Linked DNA regions of Homo sapiens. The protein of the gene in region 2 interacts with the protein of the main gene of each other region in a pairwise test. Each region holds a gene or a part of one and is shown on either strand. Other genes may lie near its edges. The genes, in order: BRI3BP, BRI3 and ABHD16A.

Evidence for each region.
Region 1: the proteins of BRI3 (region 2) and BRI3BP interact in binary tests that used the Homo sapiens proteins (3 or more experiments, as listed by UniProt).
Region 3: the proteins of BRI3 (region 2) and ABHD16A interact in binary tests that used the Homo sapiens proteins (3 or more experiments, as listed by UniProt).

Annotation. Positions count from the first base shown.
Region 1 is NC_000012.12:124,996,438-125,003,696, reverse strand, and holds part of BRI3BP (BRI3-binding protein precursor), read right to left. Parts: intron 1-7,259. UniProt on the Homo sapiens protein: Involved in tumorigenesis and may function by stabilizing p53/TP53.
Region 2 is NC_000007.14:98,284,587-98,291,845, reverse strand, and holds the end of BRI3 (membrane protein BRI3), read right to left. Parts: intron 736-7,259; coding exon 603-735; coding exon of another isoform or gene 556-602; 3' UTR 301-555; downstream 1-300. UniProt on the Homo sapiens protein: Participates in tumor necrosis factor-alpha (TNF)-induced cell death. May be a target of Wnt/beta-catenin signaling in the liver.
Region 3 is NC_000006.12:31,686,303-31,693,431, reverse strand, and holds the end of ABHD16A (phosphatidylserine lipase ABHD16A), read left to right. Parts: coding exon 1-73; intron 74-282; coding exon 283-405; intron 406-1,513; coding exon 1,514-1,628; intron 1,629-1,751; coding exon 1,752-1,853; intron 1,854-2,115; exon of another isoform or gene 2,116-2,674; intron 2,675-2,829; coding exon 2,830-2,893; intron 2,894-3,304; coding exon 3,305-3,354; intron 3,355-3,465; exon of another isoform or gene 3,466-3,727; coding exon 3,728-3,851; intron 3,852-4,312; coding exon 4,313-4,417; intron 4,418-4,645; coding exon 4,646-4,709; intron 4,710-5,126; coding exon 5,127-5,183; intron 5,184-5,328; coding exon 5,329-5,391; intron 5,392-5,531; coding exon 5,532-5,608; intron 5,609-5,691; coding exon 5,692-5,790; intron 5,791-5,887; coding exon 5,888-5,934; intron 5,935-6,136; coding exon 6,137-6,220; 3' UTR 6,221-6,477; downstream 6,478-7,129. UniProt on the Homo sapiens protein: Phosphatidylserine (PS) lipase that mediates the hydrolysis of phosphatidylserine to generate lysophosphatidylserine (LPS). LPS constitutes a class of signaling lipids that regulates immunological and neurological processes.

The DNA.
Region 1 (7,259 bases), on a different chromosome or scaffold from region 2:
ACAGGCATGAGCCACCATGCCCGGCCGGTATTGTGGTTTTGATTTTCACAAAATTTTTATTGTTAAAGATGCTAACTGAAATATGCAAAGGTGAACTAATGTATTGGATTAGCTTTAAAATATTATTCCAGGCACCCTCAAAAAAATTTAGGAAGGAAAGAAGTAACCAGAATGGCAGAAAGTTGCTACATGGGAAGACCTGGGTGAACAAGGGTTCACTCTACTCTCCCTACCTTTGGTTATGTTGGACAATTTTCAGAATGGAAAGTTGAAATAAGGGGACCAGGTGAGCAAACTGTGGATGCCTGAGGACTCAGACAAACAAGGCCCAGCCATCGCCTCCATGGGAGGGAACAAGATTGCTTCAAGCCTGGGATTTCATCAGCGCTCTTCTTGCAGCAGTCAGGCGGGGGACATCCAACACCCGGGGACATCCAACACCGGGGTTGGGTGACAATGGCCTTCCTGCATCCTAATCTCGCTTTACCTCCATCACCCTCAGGCACATGCAAACGGGTCCTATGGAAAATCAGGCCATGAGGGCAAAGGCATCTTGATAAGCAAGCCAGGGAGAGGGGACGGGAGATTCTGCCATTCAGAGGTTTCCCAAGCATCTGAAGAACACACAGAAATGCAAAAGCCAGATGAACGGAAAATGCTGGAACATAACATACAGACCACGTATGAACCACAGAGGGGAAAGGGCACCCCCAGCGCAGTGGGCCTGCCCAGCCTCAACCCAGAGATCAAATTCAGCGTCAACCAACGAGAATGCGATGGCACAAACAGACACCACGAGCCCCGATATGGTACTGCCTCAGCAAGGACACATGATGCCTTCTGCAGAATTCTTGCCATGAAAGCTAAGTCTGAGCCTAACCCGGAGGAGATAATCAGAATAATACAATACACACTGTGGGACATTTCAAAAGACAGTTCTGGGCCAGGTGTGGTGGCTCACGCCTGTAATCCCAGCACTTTGGGAGGCCAAGGTGAGTGGATCACGAGGTCAGGAGATCGAGACCATCCTGGCTAACACAGTGAAACTCTGTCTGTACTAAAAATACAAAAAATTAGCTGGGCGTGGTGGCGGGTGCCTGTAGTCCCAGCTACTCGGGAGGCTGAGGCAGGAGAATGGCGTGAACCCCGGAGGCGGAGGTTGCAGTGAGCAGAGATTGTGCCACTGCACTCCAGCCTGGCAACAGAGCGAGACTCTGTCTCAAAAAAAAAAAAAACAAAACAAAAAAAAAAACCAGTTCTGGACTGTCAAAACCACAGCAATACTACTTCACGTCTGCCAAGATGGCTAGAATTAAAAAGGTAGACCATAGCAAGTGCTGACAAGGATGTGGGGAAACCAGGCCCCACATGCTGGTAGGCAGGTAAAACGGTACATCTGCCTTGGAAAAGGGTGACGGTTCCCCAAAGTGTTAAACAAAAAGTTCCTGTATGACCCAGCAACTGGACTCCTAGGTATGCACCGCAAAATACTGGAAACAATGCCCACACAAATATTTGCACATGGATATTCACAGCAGCATCCATTCACAATAGACAAAAAGTGACATAAACCGAAATGTGCATCAGTTGATGATCAGGTAAATAAAAAGCCATAAAGAGGAATAAAGTATTGATCCTGCAGTATGGATGAACCTTGAAAACATGAGGCTAAGTGAAAGAAGCCAGACACAAAAGGCCAGACTGTACAGGACTCCACTCCTATGAAAAGCCCACAGTAGGCTCAGAAATAGAGACAGAAAGCAGATTGGCAGTTGCTTAAGGCTGGGAGTTGGGGCAAAGGAAAAAAGTAGTGACTGCTAATGGGTACAGAGTTTCTTTTTGGGGTAATGCAAATGTTCTAAAACTGACTGTAGTGACAGCTGTACAGCACTGTGAATATACTACAAACCGCTGAGCTTTCAATGAATAAACTGTATGGTATATGAATTATAGCTCAAAAAAAAAAAAGACATTTAGTCTGTGATCTTCAGAAATGTCAATGCTGTAAAAGTCCCTTACTGGGCCAGGCGAAGTGGCTCACGCCTATAATCCCAGCACTTTGGGAGGCCAAGGCGGGAGGATCGCATGAGCCCAGGAGTCAAGAGACCAGCCTGGGCAACACAGGGATTTCGAGGAGAAATCCTGTCTCTACGAAAAATACAATAAATAAATAAATAGGCATGGTGGCACATGCTTGTAAGCCCAGCTACTCAGGAGGTTAAGGTGGGAGGATCGCTTGAACCCAGGAGGCAGAGGTTGCACCGAGCCGAGACTGCGCCACTGCACTCCATTCTGGGCTACAGAGTGAGAGCTTGTCTAAAAGAAAAAAATGCATAATTGGGGCCGGGTGCGGTGGCTCATGCCTGTAATCCCAGCACTTTGGGAGGCCGAGCCGGGCAGATCACGAGGTCAGGAGATCCAGACTATCCTGGCTAACACGGTGAAACCCCATCTCTACTAAAAATACAAAAAAAATTAGCCGGGCGTGATGGCGGGCACCCTTGGTCCCAGCTATTTGGGAGGCTGAGGCAGGAGAATGGCGTGAACACAGGAGGTGGAGCTTGCAGTGGGCCGAGATCGCGCCACTGCACTCCAGCCTGGGTGACAGAGCAAGACTCCGTCTCAAAAAAAAATAAAAATAAAAAAAAATTCATAATTAAGTCCCTTCCTCCACCAAAAGTGAGGAAACTCTGACAGACTAGAGACATGAACACTAAATGCATGAGCAGTCCTTGACTGGGTGTTGGATTTTTTATGAGCTATAAAGACAATTTGAATATGGACTATCTGTTACAAAATACTGTACTATATTTAAGTTTCTTGGCTGAGACAATGGTATTGTGGTTCTGTAGGAAAAAGTATTAAGACGTCTGCAACTAACTTTCAAATGATCCTGCCAAAAAATAAAAATAAATGTGTGTGCATGTGTGTATGTGTCTATCGGATGTGTTTGCAGAGAAAAAAGTTTGAGGGGAAATGTAAGAACTGGTGACTTTAGGGGAGATGTTTGCAGCTATTCCTTGTTCTGTTCTTTCAGCATTTTAGTACTTTGAAAAATTATCAACATAAAAAATTATAGGAAACAGGCTGGGCGTGGTGGCTCACGCCTGTAATCCCAGCACTTTGGGAGGCCGAGGCAGGCAATCATGAGGTCAGGAGATCGAGACCATCCTGGCTAACATGGTGAAACCCCGTCTCTACTAAAAATACAAAAAATTAGCCGGGCGTGGTGGTGGGCGTCTGTAGTCCCAGCTACTCGGGAGGCTGAGGCAGGGGAAAGGTGTGAACCCGGGAGGCAGAGCTTGCAGTGAGCCGAGATTGCGCCACTGCACTCCAGCCTGGGTGGCAGAGCGAGACTCCCTCTCAAAAAAAAAAAAAAAAAAAAAAATCATATGAAACTTTATCTTAACTGTGGTAATTTTTCACAAGTGTGTATGTCAAAAGGTGTCAACCTGTACACTTTAAATACGCACAGTCTATTGAGGTGTAGTGCAATTACACCTCAAAAAAGCTGTTAAAATGTTGGTAGGGGAAAAAGGACTGGAAAGTGTCAAAGTTATTTTGCTCAAAATACTTTCTTGCAAACAGCAAAAAATGCAAACCTCTTTACAAAAAAAAAAAAAAAGCAAAAACAAAAGAACCCAACAGCTCAATAGAACGGCAAAAAAAAAAAAAAAAAAGAAAAACCAAAAGGCAGTTCCCAGAACATATCGATGGATTCTGAATAAATGAAAAGACCATCTGTCTCATACATAATAAAGCCAAAAAGTTTAATGAGGCTGGGTCGGGTGTCTCACACCTGTAATCCCAGCACTTTGGGAGGCCGAGGCGGGCGGATCACGAGGTCAGGAAATCGAGACCATCCTGGCGAACACAGTGAAACCCCGTCTCTACTAAAAACACACAAAAAAATTAGCTGGGCATGGTGGCAGGCGCCTGTAGTCCCAGCCACTTGGGAGGCTGAAGCAGAAGAATGGCATGAACCCAGGAGGTGGAGCTTGCAGTGAGCCGAAATTGCGCCACTGCACTCCAGCCTGGGCGACAGAGGGAGACTCCGTCTCAAGAAAAATAAATAAATAAATAAATAAAAATAAAAAATAAAAAACTTAGCAGGGCATGGCGGTGCAGACCTGTAATCCCAGCTACTTGAGAGGCTGATGCAGGAGGATCATTTGAGCCCGGGAGGTAGAGACTGCAGTGAGCCAAGATTGAGCTACTGCACTCCAGCCTGGGCGACAGAGGGAGACTCTGTTTCAGGGAAAAATAAAATAAAAATACAAAACAGTGCGCATAGTGCAAAATAAACAAAAACCAACAATAGGGAGCAGATCTATAGATCCATATATTTATACATGTTCAGAATATCTGGCTGCTTCGGGGAAGGGGGTGGTAGACGGGTCGGTAGTGGGAAGTGGAGTTAGTTTCTTAACCTTCAGAACTACATGAAATTGTATTCCATGCAACTACGACCAAGGAGCAAGGGAAAAAAGTACTAGTTTCTCGACCTGGCATTCAGGATGTTTCCACCACATCAGTCCAGCTATATTCTGCCTGAGAGGAATCATTTTCTCCACATACAGTAGGTGCTTGAAATTTTTCATTTGTTTGTTTTTTTTGGAGACAAAGAGTTTTGTGCTGTCCCTGAGGCTGGAGTACAGTGGTGTGATCACAGCTCACTGTAGTCTCAACCTCCCAGGATCAAGCGATCCTCCCTATGCAACCTCCCAAGTAGCTGGGACCACAGGTGTGCGCCACCATGCCTAGCCAAAGGTTTTGGTTTTTCGTAGAGATGGGGTCTCACTATGTTGCCCAGGCTGGTCTCAAACTCCTGGGCTCAAGCAATCCTCCCACCTAGGCCTCCCAAAGTGGTGGGATTACAGATGTGAGCCACTGCACCAGGCCAATTTTTTTAAAAAACTGTAGTCATATACACATAAAGTTGGCCATTTTAACCATTTTAAAGTGTACAATTCAGTGGCATGAGCACGTTCACAATATCATGCAACCATTATTATCTAGTTCCACAATCTGTCATCACCCCAAAAGGAAACCCTAGATCAATTAAGCAGTAATTCCCCCATTGCTCCCTCCCCCAGCCCCTGGCAACCACCCATCTGCTTTCTGTCTCTACGGATCTTCCTATTCCAGATATTTCATATGCTGTAAATGGAATCATATAATGTGTGCCCTTTCGTGACTGGCTTCTCTCATTTATTCAAGGTTCGTCCAAGTTGTAGCATATAGCAATACTTCATTCCTTTTTATGGCTGAATCATATTTCATTATACAGACACATCACATTTTATCCCTTCATCAGCTGATAAGACATTTGGGACATTTCCACTTTTTAGCTATTGTAAAAAGTGTTGCTATGAACACATGTGTATAAGTTGCTTAATAATTTTTTTTGAGACGGAGTCTCTGTTCCCCCGGCTTGAGTGCAGTGGGGCGACTCAACCTCACCGCAACGTCAGCCTCCCGGGCTCAATCTATTCTCCTGCCTCAGCCTCCCAAGTAGCTGGGATTACAGTCGTGCACCACCACGCCCAGCTAATTTTTTTTTTTTTTTTTTGAGACGGAGTTTCACTCGTTGCCCAGGCTGGCGCGCGCAACGGTGCAATCTTGGCTCACTGCAACGGCCGCCTCCCGGGTTCAAGCGATTCTCCTGCCTCAGGCTCCCAAGTAGCTGGGATTACAGGCATGCATCACCACGCCTGGCTAATTTTTTGTATTTGGTAGAGACAGGGTTTCACCATGTTGGTCAGGCTGGTCTTGAACTCCTGACCTCAGGTGATCCATCCACCTTGGCCTCCCAAAGTGCTAGGATTACAGGCGTGAGCCACCACACCTGGCCTAATTTTTGTATTTTTAGTAGAGACAGGGTTTCGCCATGTTGACCAGGCTGGTCTCGAGCTCCTGACTTCAGATGAGCTGCCCACCTTGGCCTCCCTAAGTGCTGGGATTACAGGTGTGAGCCACCATGCCAGGGCATCACTTAATAATTTTTAAAGGAATTAACAAGTCTATTACCTCCTACCAGACAAATTCCCTTCATATAGAAATATTCTACCATTTACTAAATGCTTATTCAGTCCCTGGCATTGTGCAGCCCAACCAATCTCCTTTAATTCCCCAATTTATCTCCTCTGAACAAATGGGACACAGATAAGTAAAGCAACTGGGTGGTGCACGGTGGTTCACGTCTGTAAATCCGGCACTTTGGGAGGCCGAGGCAGGCAGATCACCTGAAGTCATGAGATCGAGACCAGCCTGGCCAACACAGTGAAACCCTGTCTCTACTAAAAATACAAAAATTAGCTGGTCGTGGTGGCATCTGCCTGTAACCCCAGCTACTAGGGAGGCTGAAGCAGGAGAATTTCGTGAATCCGGGAGGCGGAGGTTGCAGTAAGCCGAGAGCTCGCCATTGCACTCCAGCCTGGGAGAAGAAGCGAGACTGCATCTCAAAAAAAAAAAAAAAAAAAGAGAAGTAAAGCAAAAAAAAAAGAGAAGTAAAGCAACTGGCTCAGGGTCACAGAGCGAGTGAGAAACAGCTAGGATTCAAACTCATGTCTGTTCCCATGCTCCAAACAGGATGGTCATAGGTGTATTTCAGACAAGTCCTAGATTAGAATATGGGAGGCCGGGCACGGTGGCTCAAGCCTCTAATCATAGCACTTTGGGAGGCTGAGGAGGGCGGATTACGAGGTCAGGAGTTCGAAACCAGCCTGGCCAACATGGTGAAACCCCATCTCTACTAAAAATACAAAAATTAGCCAGGCATGGTGGCACACACGCCTGTAATCCCAGCTACTCAGGGGGCTGAGGCAGGAGAATTGTTTGAACCTGGGCGGCAGAGGTTGCCATGAGCCAAGACTGAACCACTGCATTCCAGCCTGGGCGACAAAGCAATACTCCATCTCGGAAAAAAAAAAAAAAAAAGACTATGGGGTGTTTTTTTAAATACCATTAAACTTCACAAAGCAGGTTTGGCTCTAATTCGTAAACCCAGGCATGCTGAAAACTACAGTTGCTGGCAGACCCAGTTTTCCTTTATTTAAAATTCACAAAACAGGCTGGGCACGGTGGCTTACGCCTGTAATCCCAGCACTTTTGGAAGGCTGAGGTCGGCAGATCACTTGAGGTCAGGAGTTTGAGACCAGCCTGGCCAACATGATGAAACCTCATCTCTACCAAAAACATAAAAAATTAGCCGGATGTGGTGGTGCTCACTTGTAATCCCGGCTACTCACTTGTAATCC
Region 2 (7,259 bases):
GGTTTCTGGTTTTGTTACGGGGTGGAAGAATAGGACCTGGGGGTCTCGGATGCAACCTGCAGACCCCGTGGCTCACCCAACCCCAGGTTCTGCCTCCCAGACCAGAACGGGCATGGCCTGGTCCTTGGCACCGAGGTGCCTGCTCTGTAAATATCAAGGGATTACAACTTTAATAATAAAGCAGAACTTGAAAACATTTTCTTGAGCTGTAAGCGCCTGCTGAATACAACTGTGGTCAGGACTGGCCGGGGGAGCGATGGGGGTGTCGTTCCAGTCTTTCCTGGGTCTCTGAAAGCACCGAGTAAGCAGCACCAGGTCAACAATGGTATGAATCTCATTTATTGAAAACATTATTTCTCACCTTTCTCAAATTGAAGACTGCAAAAAATAAAAGCAGTGCTTTATTGAGTTGTCATGAGCCTCGGGCGGGAGCAGCAGCACTGCCTCTCCACGCTCCGGGAAACCGCAGCTGGCGTGTGCCACATCGGTCCCACCTCGCTTTACAAAACAGTCCTGAAGCTTAATCAAATAAAATTATTGTACACAACATTTACATTAGAAAAAGAGAGCTGGGTGTAGGAAAGCCGGGCCTGGTGTTCCCTTTAAGCGAAGGTGGCTCCACAGTTGGGGCATCGTCGCTTCCTCAAGGCAAAACAGCAAATGAACCCAAAGGGGAAGAGGATGATGGCCAGGAAGATGCCCAGGAAGGTGAAGCAGTCCTCCAGCACCCCAACCCTGCAGCAGAGACGGGCAGAGAGGGTGGCACCGTAAGGACCCGGGCAGCCAGAACCCTCACCCCTGCCACCCTTGCATTCAATAACCAACCAGTGGCCATGAGTCACATGGGGACCTCTGGCGAGTGACAGAAAACAGCCCCCCACCCCACCACCCAGCTACAGCCCACTGGCCTGGAGAGCCCCAAGAACCAGCTGCACGTACCCGTTCATGGAATGGCCATAGTTATTTAATCACTACATGTAACATTCAAAGAAAACGGGAAGAATAAAACAGTTGAAAGGACTCATCAGTTAACCTTGAAAGGCAAGGCAGGGTGTGTGGTGGCTCACGCCTGTAATCCCAGCACTGTGGGAGGCGGAGGCGGGTGGATCACCTGAGTTCAGGAGTTCAAGACCAGCCTGGCCAACACGGTGAAACCCTGTCTCTACTAACAATACAAAAATCTGCCAGGCGTGGTGGCACATGCCTGTAGTCCCGGCTACTTGGGAGGCTGAGGCAGGAGAATCGCTTGAATCCAGGAGGCAGAGGTTGCAGTGAGCCGAGATTAAGCCACTACACTCCAGGCTGGGCGACAGAGCGAGACTCCATCTCAAAAAGTAAAACCTTGAGAGATGGCCGGGCGCGGTGGCTCACGCCTGTAATCCCAGCACTTTGGGAGGCCGAGGCGGGTGGATCATGAGGTCAGGAGATCGAGACCATCCTGGCTAACAAGGTGAAACCCCGTCTCTACTAAAAATACAAAAAATTAGCCGGGCGCGGTGGCGGGCGCCTGTAGTCCCAGCTACTCAGGAGGCTGAGGCAGGAGAATGGCGTGAACCCAGGAAGCGGAGCTTGCAGTGAGCCGAGATTGTGCCACTGCAGTCCACAGTCCGGCCTGGGCGACAGAGCGAGACTCCGTCTCAAAAAAAAAAAAAAAAAAAAAAAAACAACCTTGAGAGGCATGATCATTTTGGTGCCACAAGCCACATACATCTGCTCTTAGAAAAGGAGCAACTAGCAGCTTAGTGATCCAGTCAGGTTTGGGCTTTTATTCGATTTCCGTTCCTTTGGTAGCGGGGGTGGGTTAATGGGAGACTACAGTCGGCCATGTTCACACAATGTCTGAAGGCCACTTATTTTGAGAAATGTGATCTCAAAGCCGCCTCTTCAACAAAGTTCAATGTTTGTAACAGACTAAAGACACCTGCAGGCCATCCCTCAAATCCTGCGCCAGTGAGCCTAGGTTCAGTGACCTGAAATCATCATCGAACCCAACTGTCAGTTTCAGAGGCCCTAAAAGTAGGAAGCCAGAAGCCTAGTGCTCAGCTCAGCTCCTTAGGCTATTTCTGGAAAGTTCTGGACACAGCTGAAATTAACCACACTAGCCAGCTCAGCCCAAATGAGAAAAGCTTTGCTCCCACCAGACAGGCAGACCCCAACGGGCTCCTTCTGGGCCTCCTGGGGGCCCAAACCCCCCATCCAGCCAGTGCTGGAGTGAGTGGACAGAAAAACACAACAGGGTGGGGCTGTCTGATAGATGATGGGACCTGGTGCTTAGGGGGGAAGGGGAGCCTACAGCAAGGCAGTGCAGCCGCCTGCCTGCGACAGGGAAGCATGACTACCTGTGCCTTGCTAAGGGGAGAAAACTTGGCCATCTGGGGGACCCTACTCCCATCCCAGCCCCCTGGATGTTTCCAGCTGCTTCCTGGGGGTCTGGACTCATGAGGGCCACTGCCCCCACCCCTGCTGGGCAAAGCAGGCTGGGGAGCCCAAACCCCACCCACAGAACCTGTTCCCTGCTTCTCCGGGGATTATGGAAAAATAAACCAGAATATTCTGAAGTCGGGCTTTCCACTGCTGAAAGAAAAAGTTGCAAAGTGCAGTGGCTCATGCTTGTCATCCCAGCACTTTGGGAGGCCGAGGTGGGTGGATGACCTGAGGTCAGGAGTTCGAGACCAGCCTGGTCAACATGGTGAAACCGCGTTTCTACTAAAAATACAGAAATTAGCTGGGCGTAGTGGTGGGTACCTGTAATCCCAGCTACTCGGGAAGCTGAAACAGAATTGCTTGAACCTGGGAGGCAGAGGTTGCAGTGAGCTGAGATCGTGCCACTGCACTCTAGCCTGGGCAACAAGAGCAAAACTCCGTCTCAAAAAAAAAGAAAAAAGAAAAAAACTTCATGCCCACCTGCCTCCCTCTAGCCTACTCAGGGAGGTCCCTTCAGCAATCTCCAGTGGAGTAGGACACCGTGGCTCACGCCTGCAACTGCAGCACTTTGGGAAGCTGAGGCGGATCGCTTAAAGCCAGCAGTTCAAAACCAGCCTGGGCAACAAAGACCCCTCCCTACAAAAATTTAAAATTAGCCAGACACAGTGGTATGCATTTGGAAAAGGGGGATTGTTCAGCCGATTTTGGGAAACTTTTCTCCTACAGTCCCTATGTCCATTCGTTCTCAAAAGGCTCTGAGAAGTCCTGCAGCACTCTTATACCCAGTGTTTCCCAAACTCACACAACGCCACCTGTCTGTGTGGAGGGGCTGAGCTGGGCTGCAGGGCACACCATGAAGCTCCAAGGCAAAGCCAAGCAGAAGACCAGAGTCTGCCAGGAAAGTTTCTACTTCCTGTGTGGGCTTTTACAAATGTGTCCCCTATTTAAGCCCCAGAAGGTCGTCAGGCCACCACACTTGTTCAGCCTTGCCCAGGGCTGCCCCTGCCAGTCCAGACTGGGCAGGACACCTCCGCCCAGCCCTGCCGACTGCAGCACGCCCTGCCTGGCTCCAGGACCTTCTCCCCCAGGTGCCACAGCTCCCAAGACCACACAGTCGAGGTGGGGGAGCCTCGGGAAGGCCAAGCACCAGCTGTGTCCCCACAGATGGCCATGACAGGTTCCGGGGGAGCTGGAGGGAGCCAGTGGCCTCAGGCCTCTCAGGGGAGCTTCCTCTTCCCTTTTCTTCCTGGCATCTGCGGTCAAATCCCAGGAAACACACTGGCTGTATATTCTGGTTAGAAAATGTCCCATGAAAAAGCAGACAGGGAGGGTGAACCGGCTGAGAAATCCTTCTAGGGGAGAGGCCCGCACCCCCCAGAGTGGTCCCCAGTGTCACCGGGCACCCCTCAGCCAGCCCAATCAGTGACCATCTGAGCACCTCACCTCAGGACCAAAGCTGCTGAGAGGCAGGGCTGCAGGCAGAGCTGACTGCCTGTTCAAAGGCCCAGAGATGCCTGGGAGGAGGCTGGGCAAAGGGGTGTGGGTGGGGAGCCCGGCTGGAGCCCGCCCATGGGGCGCAGCAGAGACATCCAGGTGTGATGGTGCAATGGGCAGGGGTGGGGCTTCACAGTGCTGCCTGGGGGCCCCGCCCACACCAGCCTCCCACCTGCAGCTGCTGCTCGCGCCTGGGACCCAAGTCCAAGAGCAGCAGCGCCCTCCTGCTTCCTAATTCTCCATCCAGACCCAAAACCCACCTACTCTGTCAGAGCTGAGAAGTGCAGGAAGGCTGCTCACTCTTGCTGCACTCCCACTGCCACGGGCCAGGGCGCCGGCCCACCTGAGTGCTAGGATTTCCAGCAGCGCCAGCCCAGCCCACCCAGGCCCCGGCGCCTCTCTTCCCAGCACCTTGATTCCCAGCCCCGGGGCTGCAAGCAGCACAATGGGCCAAACCTAATGTGCTGACCCCACGGCCTCCCAGGCACAGGGAAACACCCTCCTTCCAACCCACGGAATTTCTGTCCAGACCCATCCCATCCTCAGCCAGAGCACAGGGCTGGGCCGTTTGTGCCACCCTGGCCTGAGCCCCTCAGTCCAGGGACCCACTCCGGCACCTCCTAAGGCAGCCTCCCTATCCCTGGTCCATTCAACCCCCACCCTCCTGCCCACCTCCACACCGCTTAAAGAGAGGGTAGGAGGGCCAAGGCCCCCGGGTCTCTGGGGAGAGCGAGCCTGTTTCCCTGCAGTGCCGCCCGGGAGCTGGACAGATCCAGCTGTCCCAGGAGGCTCAGGCCTCTGCCAGCAACAGAAGGCTGTGATCCAGACCTGAGAACCCCGGCCCGGGAGAACGAGCACTTGGGCCTGAGAGCTCTGAACGGGCTTCGAAGGCCCGAGGGCTGGCCAGGAGAGTTCGGCCCTCACCTCTGGCTCTGGGGTCAGCCTAAGGGTGGGCAGCATTCCCTACCCCCCAGGATTCCACAGCCGTACCCACAACTTCAAACGCCAAGAGGCGCTGAAGGCAGAACTCGCTGTCACTTGACAGCAAACTCACCTGGCAGCAACATGTGACCTGAACTGGTGTGTGGCTATTTATAGTCGTAATTTATCCTACTTTATCTGAATATTCATGTCTTGCTGCAGAAATATTAAAGTTTTAACTGCAGTACTGCCCTAGACCTCAAAAGGAGTGTTGGCATCATTTACTTTTTAAAACCCCAAATCTTCTGAACTGAGAAACACAATCCAGATTCTAGGTCAAGACTCCCCAAGCTGCAGGGCAGTCCTGTCCCCAGCACTGGAGGGCAGAAGGGGAACCCCTGCCCCGGAACACCTGCGGTCCCCACAGCCTCGAGTTCTCCTCCCTTCCAAACCCGGAAGAGCCCACCTGAGTTGGTGAGGTGGGTTTCAACCTTCTCAACCGCTCTGGTCCTGACCGGCTCTCTCTAGCCGCCCCTCCCCCATTCTTGTGCAATAAGCCACGCGGCCAGGGAGGGACCATGGCCACTGGCGAAATTAGGGAACTGACTAATTCCAAGAGCACTCCCTTAAGGCGACTCCAGTCCTGCAGTGAAAGTGGCCAGTCATGCCACTGTCATCCACTCAGAGCTGGGCCCTGGGACAGTAGAGGCCGCGGGGCTCCCGCCTCACCAAGGACAGAGGGGGCTGGCAGCAGGGCTCTGAGCTGCCCAGGGAGAAGGCCATCCTCGCCCTCCCTGTGTCCCCACAGGCACTTTACAGGAGGCTGAAGCTGAGGGTGTGTCCAGGGACTCCCAGCCGGGAAAGGCGTGGCTGGGATCTGAACCCAGATGGGCTCCCCAGTCACGAGCACCCATCCTGCAGGTCCCAGTTCTCCCTCCCAGGTAGCCCCCAAAGGCAGTGTCACAGGGGGCTGGCCCTAGGGCACCAAGCTGCCCTCTGCGCACATGGTGGCCTCAAGGCACCATCCACGCCCAGGAACAACCCCAGACCACCACCCCGCTGGAAGGCCAGGCCTCGCCAGGAAAAGGGGAGACGCAGGGCTTCCTCAGAGGGCTGAGGGCCTGAAGCCATGCTCAGCGCAGGGCGAGGTGGCCCCAAAGCAGCTCCAGCCAGGCTCTGGCTGTCCCAGGGTGTCCACTCCCCACAGGGGAGCTGCCTGGCTTAGGGACAGTTCACCAGGACCTCCCAGGGCCATTCCCAGCAAACCCAATGGCCAGGGCCAGCCCTCGCCTCCCCTGTGGAAGAAAGGCCTGAGAAGGTGCCCGGAGACTCTGCCTGCCACCACACCCACCCCAGCAGTGCCACTTGGCCCACAGCTGGGGGCTGAGCCCAAGGTCAGAGACTCAGGAGGCCACTGAGGGAGCACTTGGGCACCGAGGTCTGCAGCCCTGCCCAGCAAGCAGCCCAGGCCCAAGCTCCGGCCCATCCGCTGCCCCCACACCTCAGGCCAAGACTGTCAGGACGGGGACAGCCCACAGGCCATACATATGGGCAGAGCCATCCCAGCTAACTCAGCCACTTCCTCAACCAGGGGAGCTCTGGCTTCCAGGTCACAGGTGGTAGGAGGGAGCAGCCCCTCCACCTCCATCGTCTGGAAGCCCAAGGCTGTCACAGGCTCCTTCCCCTCCAGCCCCTCCCGGGCTCCACAGTCACCACCCCGTGCCCTCCACAGCCCACCTCTGCCCCCCAAGGGCCGTGGCAGCCTCCACGCTGGCCACTGAGCCGCACCCTGGACCTCTGAGCGACATCCGCCCTCCACAGCTGTTCTTTTCACCTTCCCTAGGAAAAGTGAAATCCTTTCCAGGATTTCCTCTCTCTCTGGTCACCCCCAAAACTAAATACCCAGTGACAGCCCAGCCAGTACTCATGGGGGCCTGGTGCAGGCCAGGGGCCTTCCCCACTCCTGCCTTCCCCGCTTGCAGGACGCAGGCTCTGCTCCAGCCCAGGAGAGCCTCCCAGCGCAGCTACCTCATCCTGCACCTAGGTACAACCACACCCCCAGCAAAGAATGACTGGCCTCCCTGGGCAAGGGAGAACCTGGCTTCAGGGAGGCCCAGGCCTTGGGCAGGGCAAGGCAGGGCAGGGCAGGGCAGGGCAGGGGTGAAGCAGGAGGGTGGGAGGAGCAGGGACATATCCGCCGCCAGGCTGCGGAAATGCTTCCTCATAAACGGCTAGAAAGGGAAGATGGAGTCAGGCAGCTTCAGCGAAGGCCTGGCCAGGGCAGCAGAGCCACAAGGGACACGGGCTTCTCTGGCCAAGCCTCACTCAGAAGGACTAACAGATGTGTGACTTGGGCAAATTCCTGCCATGCCACCAGGCAGGGAGGGGGACAGAGCCCGGCGGGCTGGACCTGGGGCAGG
Region 3 (7,129 bases), on a different chromosome or scaffold from region 2:
GGCAGCTTGCCAACTACAACTTTGACTTCCGGAGCTGGCCAGTCGACTTCCACTGGGAAGAACCCAGCAGCCGGTGAGGCCCCAGTTCTTTTGCTGTATCTCTCCCCTTAGAACCATTCCAGAAAATCTCTGCTCTGCCCTCCCACCTCCATGCCCTCTCAGGTCACAGTGCCTGCCTTCCAATGCCATTATGTCGTTCCTAGACCCCACTGTTCTCCAGACCTCAGACATCCAGCTTGCTGCTCCTGACCCTATCCTTCCCTGCATCTTTCCCTTCCTCAGGAAGGAGTCTCGAGGGGGCCCTTCCCGCCGGGGTGTGGCCCTGCTTCGCCCAGAGCCCCTGCACCGGGGGACAGCAGACACCCTCCTCAACCGGGTTAAGAAGCTGCCTTGTCAGATCACCAGGTGGGAAACAGCAGCGAGGAGAGGCCCACTGGGGTGGAGGGGCCATTTCAGGAGTGCTCTGGGAGTGGGCGCTCCATTGTAAAATAGCTGTCACTCATTGGGCCTAGTGCTGTATGGTTTGTGTAGATCATTTATGGCAAAGTCATTTTTATCCATATTTATGTTTGAAGAAAAGAGGCTCAGAGAGGTCTGGAGTCTCAAATGTAGTAAGTAAAGAACTGGGATATGAACAAAAGCTCCTTCAGTGAGGCTGAAAAGGAGCAGTGGGGGTGGGGTGGGGGTGGGGAGGACACACACTTGTAGCTAGGGCAGGCTCTGGTAGCATCTGTGTACCCATCGTGGCCCCTCTGCCCTGTTGTTATTCCACCTTGGCTCCGGGCCCCTGTGTGCCTCAGTGTCTGCACCTGTGATGAACCTGCCCTGCAAGGTTGCTGAGGAGATTAAGTAAGGTAACATGTTCTGAAGGGCTCCTGCCTTGCCTGGGTGCTTGAGAGCACATGGTAAATCCCAAATAAAGCTCAGTCGTGGGTACTGATGATGTCAGAAGGAACGGAAATAACCACCTATATCTTATAGTGGAACAGACACTGGGAATTTTCTTTTGCTGGGAGTTAGGAGGCAGCTTCTAGAATACCAAGGAACAGGGTGGACTTAGTGGTTGGTTGTTGACAGTGTGCTAATTAGTCAGGGAGGCAAGCCATATTTGAGGTTTTGAATTATAACCATCATTTTTTAAAGCATTATTTATTTGGGGACCTTTAATATGTTGTACTTATATTTTAACAGAATCATAATCTGATGATAACTTTGCATTTACTTATTATGTATAGACAGTTACATCATAAAACTCTCAGAATTCTGTACATACAGGATATGTGTGCACTGAGCCACAATATAAAATGTTTATCTTACAAAGGTTGCAGTAAGAAAAGTTTGCAAAACACTAGCCTGGTACATATTTCATTAAGGCTTGAAAGAGGAAAGTAAAGCTGTGAAGGTCAGGGGTAAAGCAGGCCTTACAGTCTGTGAGTGCTAGGGCTGGGATGGTCCCCAGCACAGTCCCCAGGCCTCAACAGGGTTGGGGTTTGTTAACCTGTGTTCCCCACAGCTACCTGGTGGCGCACACCCTAGGGCGCCGGATGCTGTATCCAGGCTCTGTGTACCTGCTGCAGAAGGCCCTCATGCCTGTGCTGCTGCAGGGCCAGGCCCGACTGGTGGAAGAGGTGAGGCTTCCCTGCCCGCACATCCCCTAAAGCCCTCCCCTCTCACCCCCACCCACCCCGCCCCACCCCTGTGATGTGGCCTCCTGACCCTTGCATCTTGGCCATTGCGTCTTCCGTACTCAGTGTAATGGGCGCCGGGCAAAGCTGCTGGCCTGTGATGGCAATGAGATTGACACCATGTTTGTGGACCGGCGGGGGACAGCTGAGCCCCAGGGACAGAAGCTGGTAAGAGGGAGCAGAGAGCCCAGAGGTGGGGTGAGTGTGAGGAAGGCAGTAGAGGTCTGGGGACCCCAATGCTATAGCACCTCCCTGAAGGAACCACTACTGGGGATAATCTCATGTCCTAGCTCCACGCTAAAGACCTTGTGATGTAGTGAAACCCTGTGATAGAGAAACAGATGAAGTAGGAGAGACGTTCAAGGACGAGAAACTAATATTAATAGTTACCACTTTGACAGCACTTCACACTTATATATATTTAATTCTCATATATATATGAAGCATATATATTTAATTCTCAAAAGAATCCCGTGAGATAGGTACTGCTTATATTAGCCCATTTTACAGGAGATGAAACTGGGGCACAGAAAACCTTTCCTGGACCTCACAGTAAGTGGTAGAGCTGGTATTTGGACCCAGGCAGCCTGGCCTCAAAGTCTCCTACCTCCATGAAGCAGCCGTGGAAAGAGCGCTAAGCCAGGAGTCTAGGGAGCTGGGTTCTAGTCCTGGCTCTGCCCATCTGTTATGAGAGTTCATGCAAATCCCACCATTCGTGGGTTTCAGCTTGGGGCGCCATGGCATTACAGTTTATCTGACCATAAGACTGGAGCTCAGAGAGGGATAGGGAGAGCAATCAGCATACCACACAATAGCAATGGTCACAGAAGATAACAGACCCGAAAACGAGAAAGGAAAAACATCTCCATAGTCCCCTTCCTGAAAGAGATCCAGCTGGTAATCTTCCAAGGAAAAGACATGGCTGGGTGGTCGAGCAGGTCAGCCTCTGAGGAGTATTTGTAATCCCTTTGCTTCTCCTCTTATGGACCCTGTGGAATGAGAAGCTTCCATTCCCCTTGGAGAAAACAGAAACCTGCCCTTTCCTCTTCCCTGCAAAGCTCTTCATGGGCTGCCCTCCCTGCCCAAAGGGAGTTTTTCAGTCCCAACTTGGCCCCCCAGCCCTTCCTTCCTGCCTCCTTCCTAGGTGATCTGCTGTGAGGGGAATGCTGGGTTTTATGAGGTGGGCTGCGTCTCCACGCCCCTGGAAGGTAGGACGGTGACTCAGCCTCCTTATCTCCGCCCTTTGAAAGGGAATGTCCCTGCCTCCCACACTGACCTGACCTCCCCTGGCCTCTGCTTTCTCTGGGTGAGGTTTTGAGTCTCTCAGCTTTAGGGAAAAGTCCACTCGCCATTTGCTTTGATAACCTTACATCCCTCCCCTGGCCTGTGTCCCTAGCTATTATGCTTTTCATTCTGTTCCATTCCCCCACCACACACCCCACACAATCACATGCTGCTCCCTGTGCTGCCTCAGAACCTCTGGTGTCATCTCCTATTTCTGGGAAGGCTTGGAGTTATTTGCATCTAAGCTGGGGGGTACTTCTGCTCTTCCTTCCCCCAGGGATGGAGAAAGGGCTGTGGGCCACAAGGTCTCAGTCCCTCCTCCCCCTGTGTTACAGCTGGATATTCAGTCCTGGGCTGGAATCATCCAGGCTTTGCTGGAAGCACGGTGAGACCATCTCAGGAATCCCTTCCTTTTCCTGAATTATGTCTGTTTCCCTCTGGTCAGCCATTGGAGGGAGGAGAGGGGCTGTGGATTTCTTGAAGGCGTCCCACTCACCTGAGGGCTGGGGTCTAGGAGGTTGTGAAGGCAGCATTGGGAGCCATGCCCCCATCCCCACAGTGCGGGGCTAGCAGGAGAGGAGGAGGTAGATCTCATTGTACACATCCGTCTTCTGGAGAGAACAACCTCTCCTACCATCCCTTCCTTCTACACCTTCTCTGCCTGTCATAGGTGGCTGCAGGAGGGGTCCACGTTGGGAGGGACAGGTGAGCTGGCCTTTGGTGCTGACACACTCCTGACTTTGCCCTTTCTCCTGCAGGGGGTGCCATTCCCGCAGAATGAGGCTAATGCCATGGATGTGGTGGTCCAGTTTGCCATCCACCGCCTAGGCTTCCAGCCCCAGGACATCATCATCTACGCCTGGTCCATCGGCGGCTTCACTGGTACCAGCCTCCCTCCCATCCCCCACTGTAGACACATTCATGACCACCCAGCCCCACCCGGGAGAGGTGGGGAAATGGGGTGGGGTGGAGGCTCAAGGAAGAAGAGAGAGGAAGTAGAATCTCTGAGTGGGCCTGGAAGAAGCTATCCTATTTGCATACACTTCACCTTTCCTTCCCCTCTTGTGCCCAGTCATTAAAAGGAAAAGCAGACCCAGGTCCTGGGTGGGGAGATCAGGGAAAGTGAATGTTTCCTGCCCATTATCTTCAGTGCACTATCTCCAGTGTTCTATCCCCATCCTCTCCAGATAGTTCCCTAACCAAGTGAAGTAGGTTAAGAAAAAAACAAGGGATAACATAGGGGGAATGGGGTTGGCCTATAGGGTCAGTGGGATGAGAGCATGGGTGGTGGGGAGAAAGGAGCCTTTCTCAGTTCTTACTCTTCTTCCCTGCCCTGGTACCAGCCACGTGGGCAGCCATGTCCTACCCAGATGTTAGTGCCATGATCCTGGATGCCTCCTTTGATGACCTGGTGCCCTTGGCCTTGAAGGTCATGCCAGACAGCTGGAGTGAGTGCAGCTCCCAGGCCTGCCCTTCCTGGGAAGGGGTGGGCTGGAACTGGGAACTGTTCTGAGATGGCTCCCTTTTCTTGGGTGGGGAGTAAGTCGCCCCATTGTTGGAAGCAGGAGGACTCCTTTGTCTGGGGGCCTCAGTTTTCTTTCTCCGTGAATAGTGAGGACCTTTATGTTGGGCAAGGGCTTTGTCTCTGCCATCCCTTCACCTTTATCCCACTCTAGGGGGCCTGGTGACCAGGACCGTGAGGCAGCATCTCAATCTAAACAACGCGGAGCAGCTGTGCAGGTGAGGGCCGGCCAGCGTCCGGCATTGAACACCTGCCCCCCATACAGCTCTGCTGGGCGCTCAAACCCTGAAACTAGTACTAAAGTGCAAGTTGGTAAAAGGCCACTGGCTCACATCCTGAGTGACCCTGCCACCACCTCAACTGGCCTAACCCCTCCCAGGTCCCCTGGGACTCTGGACCACCTCAGGATCTGGCAACCAAAGGGTTAAGGCCTGGCACGGCAGGGGTCTCCCAGCAGGGCCAGACTGAACCATGCCCCTTAAATAATCCCCTCTCACCCCTGAGTGAAGGGCTAGGTCAAGGGCTGTGCTATAGCAAGGGGAGGGTAAGAATGCTACCAGTGCAGGGATAGGGGTGGGCCAGTTGTCACCCGTCTCCCTCTGAGCTCTCCCTTCCCACTGCTCTGTTCTCTGAAGATACCAGGGTCCTGTACTGCTGATCCGGAGAACCAAGGATGAGATCATCACCACCACGTGAGTGCGTGGGAATCTCGGCCCTCAGGAACCCCAGAGATGGCCAGGAACTTGTCCCTTCTACCTCTGCCCACCAGAAACCTGGGTATCTAGACCCTTCCTCCTAACCTCCAGCCCCTCCAGGGTACATTCTTCTCACCCCCAGGGTTCCTGAGGACATCATGTCCAACCGAGGCAATGACCTCCTGCTGAAGCTCCTGCAGCATCGGTGAGAGCCAGGGTGTGTGCGCGCTGGGGGCAGTGTACACACACAGATACTGATACCAGCACAGGGAAGGAGGGAGGAAGGTTCAGGGATGGTGAATGAAAAAAAATCAGCCCTGACCTGTCCTGGCACTTCCTCCGTAGGTATCCCCGGGTGATGGCAGAGGAGGGTCTTCGAGTGGTGAGGCAGTGGTTGGAGGCCTCCTCACAGCTGGAGGAAGGTGAGAAGGGATCCAGTGAGGCTTGGGGCGGGGGCCCAGCAAGGTCAGGTTGCTGACTGGCTGTCATCTCTCTCCCTGACCAGCCTCAATTTATAGCCGATGGGAGGTGGAAGAGGACTGGTGTCTGTCTGTCCTCCGCTCCTACCAGGCAGAACACGGGCCCGACTTCCCCTGGAGCGTGGGTAAGGAGCTCCTGGGGCAGGAGAGAGGGTGGGAAGGGCCTAGGAAGGGGATGAATACCCAGATGTGTGGCCTATTTTGAGCGCCTCCTCTCTGCAGGGGAGGACATGAGTGCAGATGGACGGCGGCAGCTGGCTTTGTTTCTGGTGAGCTAAGGAGTGGGAAGTGGGAAGGGTTCTTGAATGGCCAGGGCTCACATAGGGGGACTGGGGATACCCTATAAGCATTGGAAGTGGCAGCTTTTGTAGAGTGGGTGGTGGATGCGGAAGTGGAGGGTGGGGAGGGAGTCCAGTGGCTGCCCCTCCCAACAGTGCTCTGTACCCCACCTGTCCCACCTCCTTTCCTCAGGCTCGGAAGCATCTGCACAACTTTGAGGCCACTCACTGCACCCCACTCCCAGCCCAGAACTTCCAGATGCCCTGGCACCTCTAGGGACCAACTGGGACTCATTATGGAAGAATGGGGTGAGAGGAGACATGAGGAAAGACCCTCTTATTTGTGATTCTCTGTGTTCATGTTGCTGTTTATAGTTTGTGGAAAGTGGGGGACCATCCCCCTTCTCACCACTGTTCCTCTTGCACGTTTCCCCTCATTCATGTGGCTGTACTTAACCTTCTCCAACATACATCCTGCATTACATGAATGGATTATTCCTAATAATTAATAAAAAGGTATTTTTTCTACTATCAGGCTAATTGTATAACTTCTCAAGTGTCCAGGGAGCCAGGGGCAGGTAGTGGGGAGAGCAGAGGCCCCAAAGAGCTGGGCTTTGGGAAACCCTAACTCTAGACAATCTAGCTAATCTAACCCTTCCCATCTCTGTGTCCCCCTAGGCCTTCAGCCCCTAACCTGAGCTTTCCTCAGGCAGCAGGTCCCCAAACCTCCCCGGTCCCTGATGTGCCTACTGTTATCACAACTGTGCAGCCTCCCTGGCCCCTCCCGCCTCCTTCTTCAGTTCTTCCTGCATACAACCACCCCAGGAGCCCATGGTTGCCCCCTCCTGCTTACGGCTCATGAGCTTTCTAGGATCCGATTTCACCTACCCAGTGCTTCTGCTGGTTTCCAGGTTCAACCTGCATGGTGTTACTAGCAGTACCCCCAATTTTCATTGCTCACCTCTTGTTATCTTGGTGAAGAGTGAGGAAGGGCCTGCTCCCCACGTCTTATGCAGCAAACCCTGCACACCCACCTTGCCATGTCATCAAGTCTCTGTCCTCACAGCCTTTTTGCAGTTCAACAAACACAGGCCCTGCCAGGGACGGAGGGCCAGGTGCCAAGGACTCATGTCTTCTCAGAGCCATACTTTGCCTTTTGGACGGCTCTGTTAGGAGAAGATGCTTA